Linked DNA regions of Homo sapiens. The protein of the gene in region 2 interacts with the protein of the main gene of each other region in a biochemical or structural test. Each region holds a gene or a part of one and is shown on either strand. Other genes may lie near its edges. The genes, in order: MAP2K2 and PDZD8.

Region 1 (3,816 bases), on a different chromosome or scaffold from region 2:
CCAGGTTTGCCCTGCAGAGACCCCCCAGGGTAGGGGTTAGCTACCTAGGGAGACTCCATCTGGCCGTTTGCTATGTGGCCGTGGTGCATCGGCCCCCAGGAGGACACAGACTGGATTCCTGCACTTGAGGGGTTCATGGTGTAGAAGGAAAGGATCCATGCTGTGTACCCCCATAGACACACCAATGACCAGAATCCAGGGCGGCTCCCCGGGAACTGAGGACGCTGCCTTGATCCTGTCTCAACAAGTCTAGCAGACCTCAGGACCTCAAGGATAAGCTGCAGCTCAAAGGACCCAGGAAGCCTCCGTCTTTTTCTTTTCTTTTTCTTTTTTTTTTGAGACGGAGTCTCCCTCTGTTGCTCAGGCTGGAATGCAGTGGCGCGATCTCGGCTCCCTGCAACCTTGGCCTCCCGGGTTCAAGAGATTCTCCTGCCTCAGCCTCCCAAGTAGCTGAGATTACAGGCTCCCGCCACCATGCCCGGCTAATTTTTGTATTTTCAGTAGAGACAGGGTTTCGCCATGTTGGTCAGGCTGGTCTCCAACTCCTGACATTGAGTGATCCGCCTGCCTCAGCCTCTCAAAGTGCTGGGATTATAGGCGTGAGCCATTGCACGCGGCCGGGAGACCTCCTTCCTAACGCACGAGCTCCGGACCATGTCGGGAGGAGACGAGGAAGCTGGGATCGGGTGAACGGAGCCCGGGCCAAGATGTCTGTCTTTGCAGGAGATAGAGGAACAAGCGTTCTGAGCAGCCTCAGAGCACAGAATGAGAACCAAGAGTAGAGGGCAGAAGGCTCAGCACAAAAGCTGCATCAGGTAGGCACGGTGGTGCACGTTTGCAGTCCCAGCTACTTGGGAGGCTGAGACACGAGAACTGCTTGAACCCGGGAGGGGGAGATTGCAGTGAACTGAGATCTTGCCACTGCACTCCAGCCTGGGCAGCAGAGGGAGGCTCTGTCTCAAAACAAAACAAACCAAAAAACAAAAAAAACAAAAAATAAGCATGACCAGCCTGGGCAACAAAGTGAGACCTATAGCCGAGCACAGTGGCTCATGCCTGTAGTTCTAGTTACTCAGGAGGCTGAGCCCAGGAGGTCGAGACTGCAGTGAGCCATGATCGTGACAATGTACTCCAGCCTGGGTGACAGAGCAAGACCTTGTTTCTACACAATAAAAAATTTCTAACAATTTAAACAAGCAAGTACATTGCACTTTATTGGGTGATTCAAGGAATCTTCAGAGGAAATTTCGACAGTAAGCTATTTTCACAAATGCCTTGACTCAGAACCAGATCCTGGAGTAACAGACAACTAAGCGCAATGCACACAGGAACCCATTGCTGTGCACAAGCAATGGAATGTAAACCATGCGCACAAATTAAAATCTTCTAGTACCCATGTTTAAAAAGAACAGGTGAACTCACTTCATTTATTTAGAGACAGGGTCCTGCTCTACCTCCCAAGCTGGGGTGCAGCGGCACGATTACAGCTCACTGCAGCCTCCAACTCCTGTCCTCAAGTGATCCTCCCACCTCAGCCTTCCTAGTAGCTAGGATCACAGGTGTGAGCCATCATGTCTGGCTCTTTTTAATTAATTAATTTTTATTATTATTATTATTTTCTGAGACAAAGTCTCATTCTGTCGCCCAGGCTGGAGTACAGTGGTGTGATCTTGGCTCACTGCAACCTCCACCTCACGGGTTCAAGCAATTCTCCTGCCTCAGCCTCCGAAGTAGCTGGAATTACAAGCACCCGCCACCACGCCCAGCTAATTTTTGTATTTTTAGTAGAGACAAGGTTTCGCCATGTTGGTCAGGCTGCTCTTGAATTCCTGGGTTCAAGCCACCTGCCCACCTTGGCCTCCCAAAGTGCTGGGATTACAGACATAAGCCACTGCACCTGGCTGAAATTAATTTTAATAACACATTTGATTTAACCCATCAAAAATGTTATCATTTTCAACGTACAACCAGTATGAAAAATGAATGAATGTTTCACACTGTTTCCGTCTTAAGCCTTTGAAATCTACAATGGCATTATTGCGCCTATGCTCTCGTGGGTTTGGGCAATTCTTGTTTTATGTGTTGCCTGTAGCCAGGGGCTACTCAACCAGGCAGTGCAGCTTTAAATGGCTCTCTGGAAGAACAGGCCACCTCCAGAGGTCCCAATTCAGGAAGGAGCTAAAGCCAAGGTGGACAGCCAGAGAGGGGACTGAAGCAGGGAATGAAGGCGTGGACTGCTCCTTCCATCTGGAAATTTCCAATCCCAAAGTTCGACCACTGTTCGCCTACAGCTGGAAGTGGCGTAAGCCACGGGGCACACAGGCCAGAACCGAGGCGATGGCGCTGGAGCTGGTGCTGCAAAGAGCTCGCTGGAAGGCAGGGGCCTGGGCACCGCTTCCTGGGCTGGACAAACACCATCTCATTCCATTCTCACCATCGTCCCCGGAGGCCCAGGCAGGAGGGAACAGACTCACAGGGGTGGGGGAACCTGCCCGAGGTAACAACACCTGCCTGAGGTCAGGACAACCCCTGCTCATCTTAGTGTCCCCCATGAGGGGAAACAGGGCCCTAGTAGGTGCTCACTGAGGAGCTGCTGAACAAGGACCCAGAAGAAGCAGAAATGGCGAGACCCTGGGAGTGGGACAGAAGGTAAGGAGGGGAACATGAATGAATGAATGAATAACATCAATGAATAAATGAATATTTATTTTTTTTGAGACAGTCTTGCTCTGTCGCCCAGGCTGGAGTGCACTGGCACGATCTCAGCTCACTGCAACCTCTGCCTCCTGGGTCCAAGCGATTCTCCTGCCTCAGCCTCCTGAGTAGCTGGGATTACAGGTGTGCATCACCGCGCTCAGCTAATTTTTTTGGCATTTTTAATAGAGACGGGGTTTTGCCATGTTGGCCAGGTTGGTCTTGAACTCTGGGCCTCAAGTAATCCACCCACCTTGGCCTCCCAAAGGGCTGGGATTACAGGCGTGAGCCACCACACCCAGCCATGAATGAACACTTCTGATGGCAGACTTGGAAGGTCTCAAGTACTGCTCAAAACATTGAAAATGCATTCTGGAGTCAGCTGACTAATCCATCTTAAATTTACTGGCAACCCAACTGTGGTTATTAAACAAAACAAAACAAAACCTTGGCGTCCCTACAGCCAGCTTCCTCTCCTGGGGGAATCCTTCAAGAGATGGGAATCAAACCCCACACGGAAGAGAAATGTGAAGGGCGAGTTCTGTGCAGAGAATGAGGAACGGGTCCCCGTGTCTGGCTGTGCCCGTGTTGACTTGCACACATTGGCATCAAGAGTCTTCATCTGGGTCACAGAAGGCCGACCCCCAAGCGGGAGAGGCCACCAGACATGCCACAGTCCCTGACACCTGGTTCTTGAGGGGTCACACCGCAGGCACGGCACCCGGACCCCAGCCAAGGGCCCCGGGGATCGCCCTGCCCTGCCTCGGCCTGCAGAACGGGAGTGCAGAGATCACCCTGGCATGACCCCACCAGTGTGTGCCCCCAACACCCAGTCCCCTCCCTCGTCCTGGAGCAGTGCGATTCTGCCAGCACGCCACCCGGACCCCAGCATACCCCTTTCTCAGATCCCTTCACCCAGGCCTCTGGTCGCCCTCCACCTCCTCAAAGCTTCTGCACTGGGTCAGCCCCTCACAAGGGTTTTCCGGTCCACTCACTTCAGAATCTGCACCTCTGCTTTCAGGGGCCAGCAGGGTCCCCTGATCCCCACGCCTCCTCGTTCCTCACACTCTGGCTTCCCTGTCTCCTCACACTTCCAGCTTCAGGGACTCCACACACTGGGCA
Region 2 (3,816 bases):
GTTAATACAATTTGACTAGATTATTATTTTGAAATTTGTAGACTAGCCAATGACAGTGAGATTACATATCATTTTGAGATTTTTTTTTTAATGTAGACTTGGAATTTAGGTAAATCTGAAGTAAGTTATGAATAAGTTATGGAGGCATTGAGAAGTTTATTACTTTGAAAAACTATTATCTGTATCATTGAATAACAACCATTTAAAAGTATGGCAAAATTGCTTTTCACTTTGAAGGGATTTTTTTAAAAACAGCATGAATTTGGTTATGATATTTCAACTTCTAAATGTGAAGCATTAAATGATCATTTCCAGAAGTATGCACATCTGTGCTATTTATACTGGATGGCATCTCAATGCTCAGTCAGCTGCACAGAGCATATCACTCAATCTGTAAATGTTTATTGTACACCTGCTATATGCTTATCCTTGTTGTAGATGCTGGGATTTCAGTACTGAACAATACTTGAACTCAGCCCTCAGGAAGCTTAGAGTCTAGTGAGAATTGAATTAGCTATACTTAGTAATTTTTTTGTGTTTTTCGTTTGTTTGTTGAGACAGGATTTTGTTCGGTTGCCCAGAGCTGGAGTACAGTGTCAGGATCATGGCTCACGGCAGCTTCGACCTCCTGGGCTCAAGCAATCCTCCCATCTCAACCTTCCAAGTAGTTAGGACCACAGGTGTGTGCCACCACTCCTGGCTAATTAAAAAAAAATTTTTTTTGTAGAGATAGGTCTTGCTTTGTTGCCCAGGCTAGTCTGGAACTCCTGGGTTCATTCAAGTGATCCTCCCACCTCAGCCTCCCAAAGTGCTGGGATTACAGGTGTGAGCCACCTTGCCCGGCGCTTTGTAAGATTTAAACTAGAATGGGATTGATGGGGTTGAAGTAGCCAGGAAGCCGGTTTTAGCTTAGTAGAAGAAAATAGCAAGTATGACGATGAAAAGGGCTGCCTCAGCAAGTGATGACTTCTTGTCTGTGTAGCTGTTCTGTCCAGTGTTTTAAACTGGTGATGGGCCAGGTGCAGTGGTTCACGCCTGTGATCCCAGCACTTTGTAAGGCTGAGACAGGCGGATTACTTAAGGTCAGGAGTGTGAGACCAGCCTGGCCAACCTGATGAAACCCCGTCTCTAGTAAAAATGCAAAAATTAGCTGGGCGTGGTGGCGGGCGCCTGTAATCCCAGCTACTCTGGAGGCTGAGGCAGGAAAATGGCTTGTACCTGGGAGGCAGAGGTTGCAGCCAGCCGATATCGCACCACTGCACTCCAGCCTGGGCGACAGGGTGAGACTCCGTCTCCAAAATAAATAAGTAAATAAATAAATAAACAAACTGGTGATGATGTGGGACTGATTCAAGTTTCAGATAAGAATGAATTACAATACATCTAAGATATAGCATACTTCTCACAGGGAAAATTAAACTAGCTAGTGTTCATCTTTTTTTACAGATGAGGAAATGGAGCTCGGAGTAGTTAAATAACTTGCTTAAAGTCACACAGCTTTCAAGTGTTGAAACGCAGCTCTGATAAGGCCAGGCCACCTTTAAACACACACACACACACACACACACACACACACACAAACTATGTTGTTCTTAAGTGATTTATTTTTTAAAAGCATGCCATCGATATAGTAAATATGTGGGATATCTTTCCAAACTAACCTAGAACTCTTGAGAAGAGTATGACTATAAAGCTGATTTTTTTTTCTTAAATTGGTCATTTTAGAGGATCCTTTTAAAAGTAAATCATGAGGCTAAATCTTTGGGTACTGTCCCACGTGGCATTTCTTTTTTAATTGAGCAGAATTGTGTTTCCAAATAGAAGAGACAGGTTTCACCATGTTGGCCAGGCTGGTTTCGAACTCCTGACTTCAGGCAGTCTACCCACCTCGGCCTCCCAAAGTGCTGGGGTTACATGTGTGAGCCGCTGTGCCCGGCCTAGTTTATTCTTTTTTAGCTATCTAATCTTCTTAGTAGAGCTAAAGCAGTAAAGAGAATTGTATGGAGTCTTACGATCCTTTGGCATTTGTAATCATTACATAACAAATATCTTGCCAGTTAACGTTGTTATTACTTCTTTCCCCCTTCATTTATTTTGCCTTTTTCGTGTTGCTAAAGTGAATCAGCCTCTCTGGACTGCCAGTTCCTGATGTTTCACCTAGAGATGCTAAGTTGCTCAAGTGGTTGCTTTCTAAGGACCCAGCTGACTGACATTTCATTTTACCCAAGTTAACAAACTTACAATGTTTGTAAAACATTTTATTTTACAAAATGAATTATAATATGTAGACAATATGTTTACAGATTTATTCAAGTTAGGAATTTCATTCATCCACCTCAATGTTAATTGGTTTGATTTTTTAATTAAAATAGTATATTATAATAGCAATATATTTTTTTAAATGAACCTCAGAATCCATCCTCAAGGGAGAAAGATTACCACTAATGTTCTTTTACTACGTGGATAATTCATCTTAAACATGGAGTCTGAGTAATAGTGTCTGGGTGGGGAGCTCTGTTTAGGGTTTAGGAGTCAAATATTTGAGATTCTTACGGATGCTTGTGTTCCTGGAGTATTATTGTATATAGACAAGCAGATTCAGTTTGCAGGTACTTTTAATTTGGCCTGCACTGTTTAAAAAATGGAAAATTCTGTGTGTTTTGGATTTGTGGCTTCTGTTAGGAAAAATTGGAATATCTTGTAGCGCCAGTGCTGCATTTCTCAGAGCAACAACAGGATGGAGAGATGGACTGTAGTAGCAGCTTTGGGGTTGAAACTCGGTGTGTAAGCTCCTAGGTGGAGTTTATAGTCCCCCCTTATTTGCTGTGCTTAATTGATGGTACTTGCCTGGCTTGGAGTTATATGAATTTGAGACCCGTACTGGAGGAGTAAATAGGGAGCATTACTGTTGCTGATTAGTGAAAATGAGAAGACTTAATAGCTGGAGTGGAGAGGGAGAGTGATCATTTTTATCCTTCTTTTAATTACATTTTTGAAGGGACTGTCATAGAGCAATTTTATTTTTTAAAAGACATTGTTGGCCAGGTGCGGTGGCTCACTCCTGTAATCCCAGCACTTTGGGAGGGCAAGGCAGGCGGATCACTTGAGGTCAGGAGTTCGAGACCAGCCTGGTCAACATGGCGAAACCCCATCTTTACTAAAAATACAAAAATTAGCTGGGCATGGTGGCACATGCCTGTAATTCCAGTTACTCAGGAGGCTGAGGCAGGAGAATCGCTTGAACCCGAGAGGCAGAGATTGCTGCAAGCCGAGATCATACCACTGCACTCCAGCCTGGGCAACAGAGCAAGACTCTATCTCAAAAAGTAAAAATAAATAAATAAATAAATAAAAGACATTGTCAGGCCTGGCGTGGTGGCTGATGCCTGTAATCTCAGCACTTTGGGAGGCCAAGGTGGGTGGATCACTTGAGGTCAGGAGTTCGAGACCAGCCTGGCCAACATGGTGAAACCCCGCTTCTACTAAAAATGGCACGCACCTGCAGTCCCAGCTGCTGGGGATGCTGAGGCATGAGAATTGCTTGAACCCAGGAGGCGGAGGTTGCAGTGAGCCAAGATTGCGCCACTGTATTCCAGTCTGGGCAACAGAGTGAGACTGTCTCAAAAAAAAAAAAAAAAAAAAAAAACATTGTCAATATAATGTTGAATTTTAAAAAGTCACTCTGCCAGAAAAAAAAAAATGCCTTGAAATGCAATCCATTTTTCTACCATGTAGTGATGGTAAGTAGATAGTGTCTCCTTTTTGTTCGAGTTTGGTGGATAGTTTGCTTTAGTGGAATGGGTCATTAATAACTAT

What was found.
Region 1: the proteins of PDZD8 (region 2) and MAP2K2 interact in a test that uses a peptide from one of them, tested with the Homo sapiens proteins (one large-scale study listed by IntAct).

What each region holds. Positions count from the first base shown.
Region 1 is NC_000019.10:4,117,619-4,121,434, forward strand, and holds part of MAP2K2 (dual specificity mitogen-activated protein kinase kinase 2), read right to left. Parts: intron 12-3,816; coding exon 1-11. UniProt on the Homo sapiens protein: Catalyzes the concomitant phosphorylation of a threonine and a tyrosine residue in a Thr-Glu-Tyr sequence located in MAP kinases. Activates the ERK1 and ERK2 MAP kinases.
Region 2 is NC_000010.11:117,368,682-117,372,497, reverse strand, and holds part of PDZD8 (PDZ domain-containing protein 8), read left to right. Parts: intron 1-3,816. UniProt on the Homo sapiens protein: Molecular tethering protein that connects endoplasmic reticulum and mitochondria membranes. PDZD8-dependent endoplasmic reticulum-mitochondria membrane tethering is essential for endoplasmic reticulum-mitochondria Ca(2+) transfer.